2 separate regions of the Homo sapiens genome follow, and region 1 is linked to region 2. The links come from fine-mapping of genetic effects on gene expression. Tissue or cell type: atrial appendage. Region 2 holds a variant in brackets; the other region holds the start of a gene. All regions are shown on one strand. Distances are between the middles of the regions.

What was found.
Region 1: LINC01880 starts here. The variant in region 2 is fine-mapped to the expression of LINC01880 in atrial appendage (GTEx, PIP 0.94).

The regions. Positions count from the first base shown.
Region 1 is chr2:242,082,903-242,085,820 of GRCh38, reverse strand. It overlaps LINC01880 (long intergenic non-protein coding RNA 1880), which reads left to right and starts at 1,683. Exons shown (of 4, transcript NR_146651.1): 1 at 1,683-1,725.
Region 2 is chr2:242,056,215-242,059,132 of GRCh38, reverse strand. All of the region lies in intron 3 of LINC01237 (long intergenic non-protein coding RNA 1237), which reads right to left. All of the region lies in intron 2 of LINC01880 (long intergenic non-protein coding RNA 1880), which reads left to right. Among named protein-coding and RNA genes, the nearest start is that of LINC01880, 26 kb to the left of the region's middle. The variant G/A (reference allele first, on the strand shown) is at 1,569.

The DNA of each region.
Region 1 (2,918 bases), 27 kb before region 2:
TGCACCAGGTGCCCCCTGCCTCACAGGGGCTTAGGGTGGTGGTGAGCACAGGGGCCCCACGCTTCTCCAATGCACACCACACAGTCGTCTCCTCTGACCTTCCCAAATGCTGCACGGACAAGTGTTTGTAGTCCCTAACTCTCAGGACAATGTAGACTTGGTATACCTTCGGGCACGGGGAATCCCATCCTTCTTCCTGTTCCTGCCGCTCTGAAGCATGTGGTGTATGTTTAATGGGGATTTTACACAATATGGGAAGACCACTTCTGCTTTCTATGCAGTGATAATACTGCAATAAGAAAAAATGAACCAAGCCACCAAAACAAAACAGTACCACCTGATGCAGAACTAGGAGGGAAACACAGCAGTGTCTCAGAGCTAATGCAGCAGCCAGGCACCACGACGGTGTCATGGGTACAAGGAGGAGGTGTCTCAGAGCTAATGCTCTGTGCTGACAGCAGCCAGGCACCACGACGGTGCCATGGGTACAAGGAGGAGGTGTCTCAGAGCTAATGCTCTGTGCTGACAGCAGCCAGGCACCACGACGGTGTCATGGGTACAAGGAGGAGGTGTCTCAGAGCTAATGCTCTGTGCTGACAGCAGCCAGGCACCATGACGGTGCCATGGGTACAAGGAGGAGGTGTCTCAGAGCTAATGCTCTGTGCTGACAGCAGCCAGGCACCACGACGGTGTCATGGGTACAAGGAGGAGGTGTCTCAGAGCTAATGCTCTGTGCTGACAGCAGCCAGGCACCACGACGGTGTCATGGGTACAAGGAGGAGGTGTCTCAGAGCTAATGCTCTGTGCTGACAGCAGCCAGGCACCACGACGGTGCCATGGGTACAAGGAGGAGGTGTCTCAGAGCTAATGCTCTGTGCTGACAGCAGCCAGGCACCACGACGGTGTCATGGGTACAAGGAGGAGGTGTCTCAGAGCTAATGCTCTGTGCTGACAGCAGCCAGGCACCACGACGGTGTCATGGGTACAAGGAGGAGGTGTCTCAGAGCTAATGCTCTGTGCTGACAGCAGCCAGGCACCACGATGGTGCCATGGGTACAAGGAGGAGGTGCCTGGTTTTCGGGAGCTTGCCATCTGAACAGACCCAAGGTGGCAAATACACAGTGAGAAAATGGGGCCATGAGTGCTGTAATTACCTACAGAATGTTTAGGGGGACTGGGAGCAAAAACAATCCCCTCTTTCAGAAACCAATCCTGGAAGGTGCTGGAAGGTTGTACTAGCTGTGAAAGTCAGAGGCCACCAGGCAGCTATCGTGAGACCAAAGGCAGTAGTCAGCTCAGGCAAGCCGGTTTCCTTATTTATGTCAAATTCCTCAGTCTTGGGTCTCCTTATCTTTTAAATAAGGAGTTAGAATAGAATTTGAGGGCTGTTCACTCAGGCATCCATGGTGGCTGCAGCATAAGGAGTGTGTGGTGTCAGGATGGGAAGGGCAACATGGAGACTGCATGGCCATTGACGTCTGAAAGTCTCTGGTTGCCAAAAAGAATCTATCTACAACAGCATTCATCCTGACAGCAGCCAACAGGCAGCCTAGACCTGGCATGCCACAGCTCCTCTAGGCTCTGAACCCCTCTCAGCTGAGCCTGGTAGATGCCAGCTGACCGGCTGCAGCCCCTGAGTAGAGGTTGGCTGTCCTAGCAATAGAGTAGGGCGGGGGCACAGCAGACATGGGACCATCATCTGGATTCCTAGACGTGCAACTGCAAGTGAGTACATAACCTCCTGAGCCCCAGCTCTCACCTGAAAGCTGAGTTAGGCGCACACACAGGAAGGCAGAGATGGGTCCAGGGCTGGGCTTCTGGTTCCTCTACTCAAACTCTGCTGCTCCCTGCCCCTCTGCCATCCCTGCAAGCTCCTCACTGACCATGCTTGTCTCAAGCGTTCTCTCTTCCTCCTGACCTCCTGGGGACTTCATAAATCCAGTATCTTTTTAAAATAATCTATTATTTTAGGCTCAGGGCTACATGTACAGGTTTGCTATACAGGTAAACTCATGTCTGGGGGTTTGTTGTACAGATTATTTCATCACCCTACATGTACAGGTTTGCTATGTAGGTAAACTCATGTCTGGGGGGTTTGTTGTACAGATTATTTCATCACCCTACATGTACAGGTTTGCTATACAAGTAAACTCATGTCTGGGGGGTTTGTTGTACAGATTATTTCATCACCCTACATGTACAGGTTTGCTATACAAGTAAACTCATGTCTGGGGGGTTTGTTGTACAGATTATTTCATCACCCTACATGTACAGGTTTGCTATACAAGTAAACTCATGTCTGGGGGGTTTGTTGTACAGATTATTTCATCACCCTACATGTACAGGTTTGCTATACAGGTAAACTCATGTCTGGGGGTTTGTTGTACAGATTATTTCATCACCCTACATGTACAGGTTTGCTATACAGGTAAACTCATGTCTGGGGGGTTTGTTGTACAGATTATTTCATCACCCTACATGTACAGGTTTGCTATACAGGTAAACTCATGTCTGGGGGTTTGTTGTACAGATTATTTCATCACCCTACATGTACAGGTTTGCTATACAGGTAAACTCATGTCTGGGGGGTTTGTTGTACAGATTATTTCATCACCCTACATGTACAGGTTTGCTATGTAGGTAAACTCATGTCTGGGGGGTTTGTTGTACAGATTATTTCATCACCCTACATGTACAGGTTTGCTATACAGGTAAACTCATGTCTGGGGGTTTGTTGGACAGATTATTTCATCACCCTACATGTACAGGTTTGCTATGCAGGTAAACTCATGTCTGGGGGTTTGTTGTACAGATTATTTCATCACCCTACATGTACAGGTTTGCTATACAGGTAAACTCATGTCTGGGGGTTTGTTGTACAGATTATTTCATCACCCTACATGTACAGGTTTGCTATA
Region 2 (2,918 bases):
CTTCTGATCTTAGGTGGGAAACTGTCATATTTCACCACTAATAAAATTTTAAAAGACAATTCTGGCAAAGATCAGAAATGGCAAAGACAGTGGAGGGTGACAGAGGGGTTTGCCTGCAACAGTTCATGTTTTTTATTTTGTTAAAAGAGAGTTACAATTATTACAGAATATTATCGGGTAGAAAACAAATGGCATTTGTCTTACATTATTCTTTCTACTTTGCTTTTTGTTTTTAAAAAATATACCAGAGAAATGAAAATAAAGTCAGCCTCCATAAAATTATGAAGAAGAAAGGCAGTATCATAATGATTATGCAGGAACCAAGGACTGGCCTGGAAGATGGGCCCCCAAGCTCACAGGGACACCAGCAGGCACTGCTTCTAGACATGGAGCCTCAGTTCCAGAATGTCCCGTGACATGACCAGGAGTAGGGAACCAGCCCTCCCGACCTCCATGTCTTATTTGCCAGGCAGGGGTAACTGCAGGCTGGCCCTGACCAGGATGACCACTGGCTCCCACTGTGGATGCATTTCGTGCGTGGCCTGCATTGGACATCGGCTCACCCATGTGCTGGGGTGTCCAGGGTCCAGGGGAAGCTCCAGGACACATTTGAGGATCAGGAGAGCAACCTGCATAGTGCAGGACTCTTGTCAGGGAGACCACGACCCGGGAGCCTTTCCTAGAAGACACAGAGTCCCCAAAAATACCTGTGACAAGGGTCTCATCACAGCACTGTCTGAGAGTGCTTGGAGAGAGGGAACCTGCCTGCAGCTGTTCCCAGAGCAGTGGGGCGGGGGACACTCCCCTACTGAAGAAGGCATTTCCTTTTGGCGCCTCCAGTTCCCCCTGCCAGGACGTCAGCACCCAGGCTCTGATGTGGGCTGCTGGGGGCCACGGCACTGCAATGCTGCCCTGGATTGAATGGGGCGGGGGCTATAGATGTATAATACAAGTTGGATTTTAGAGACTTGGTATGTGGCATAGAGTCTCAAATGTCCAAAGATGTGTCGCATTGATTTCAGGGTGAGTGGATAGTTGTTCTGATATACTGAGTTCAGTAAAATACATCGGCAGCAGGAATTTTACCGGTTACTGTTTCGTTTTTGTAAATATGGCTACCACAAAATATAAGGGCACGCAGGTTCACGCCCTCACCCAGCACTGGCCTCCCCTTCCCAGACAATCAGCCACATCTTCGCCTGCCAGCATGGCCCCTTGTTCTCAGGGCTCCTGCCCTCATGCTCCTGTGTCCTCCAGTCCCCCTGCCCTCTAGGAAGCCTCGTGGCTGATGGGGCTTTGCTCAACCTGGTCTCGCGCTCACCTCCACCTTTGGCTCTAAGGCTTGTCATCCCTAAATGAGTGCCACCGTCACGGAAGCTTCAGGTCCACAGAGCTGGATGCCCCGGCCAGGCCTGCCAGCCTCATTCCTCGTCCAGAGCACAGTAGCTCCTGCAGGTTCCCCTCCTATTTGACCAAAATAACCCTCCCGATCCCCTAAATTTAAAACTTCAGTGTGGACCCTGCCTGGGGTTCCAGGACCCCAGCCCCTCTGCTTCGCTCTCCACAGC[G/A]TTTATCACTCGACCCGTACCAGGCTCCTTACCCGTTTCTCCTATTTCTCTCTCCCTTTAGGAGGGCAAGACTATTGTTCACTGCTATTTCCCCACAGCTAGAACGGTGCTTAGAGGTACGCAGGTGTGCACACCCAGGTGCACACACACAGGAATGCACACAGATACACACTCACAAATACACACACATCTTGTATGTGTGAAAATAAGTAAATCAAACATCTTCATATTGTTTCAGTACTTTAATATTTTAGCTCTTTAAAAGATTCCACATTTACATGGTAGTGTTTCCTATTCAGCATTTTTCCCTTGATCACTCTGTCCTATTCGAAAATATTCTAAAACAATTTCTGAAGCCAAACCATCGAACTCTTCAAGACTAGGTCTCTAAGCAAATATGCCAAACAGACCCGATTCAAAGTCAGGGAAACCACAAGGCTGTCAGCCCAGCATGTTCCGTTGAAAGGCGAGTCTGAAGCAACGTCCCAGACCCCTGAGGTGGGCTCCATCCCAGCAGCTCCCCTGGGTCTGTGCAGGGCCCCCCACGCCTCCGAGTCGGAGCCAGCTCTCAACTGGCCAAAAAGAAGATGTGATGACTGTGAGAGCCTCTCCAGGTCCTTCGGGTCGGACCTGTCACCTAATTGGGTGAATTACGGCTGAATAGGTGAGGACTGTTTAACTGCCTTCAGGCATCTTTCAGATTGTGTGGTTAGCTAAGCCAGCTGCTGCAAGAAATGGAAACAAACTCATTCCAGGGTTGCCTCTGGAAGACGCAGGTGCCCACGGCCCTCCAGTCCCCCTGAATCCTCATCTTAAAATAAAATAGGTTGGCCCTTTTTCATTACTAAACTTATTCAAATACAGGTGTCCAGCTTGCACGGAATTACCCTCCATTTTCCATTTTTATGCACTAAATGCATACGCATATTTCTAGACTATTAGTTTCTTCATTTTTTTCTTTACAAAAGAGGACTCTTTCTGCTTTTATTAATTTTGACGATTTTCTCTAATATACTGTAAGATTTAATGCATGTTATTTTCTAATTGCTGTATTTCATCCTGGATTAAAGTAACCTCAAAAAATAATCATCAAGAAGAGATGGAAAGAAAAGAGGGGAATGAGAAAAAAATGAACTTTACCTTTCAACAAATTTATAAAAAGATGTGTTTTTTATTCTTTACAAAAACTAAATTATTGTTCATAGGCTGAAGGCTGTTGAATTATGAGAAAGCGTCATTTGAAGAGATGGATGCCTGTGACCCCGCCAGGCTCTGCAGACCTGGAGGCGGCTCCAGATCTGGGGTGTGCGGCGCATTGTGTGTCCAACAGGTGATTAACTCTGCTGGTGA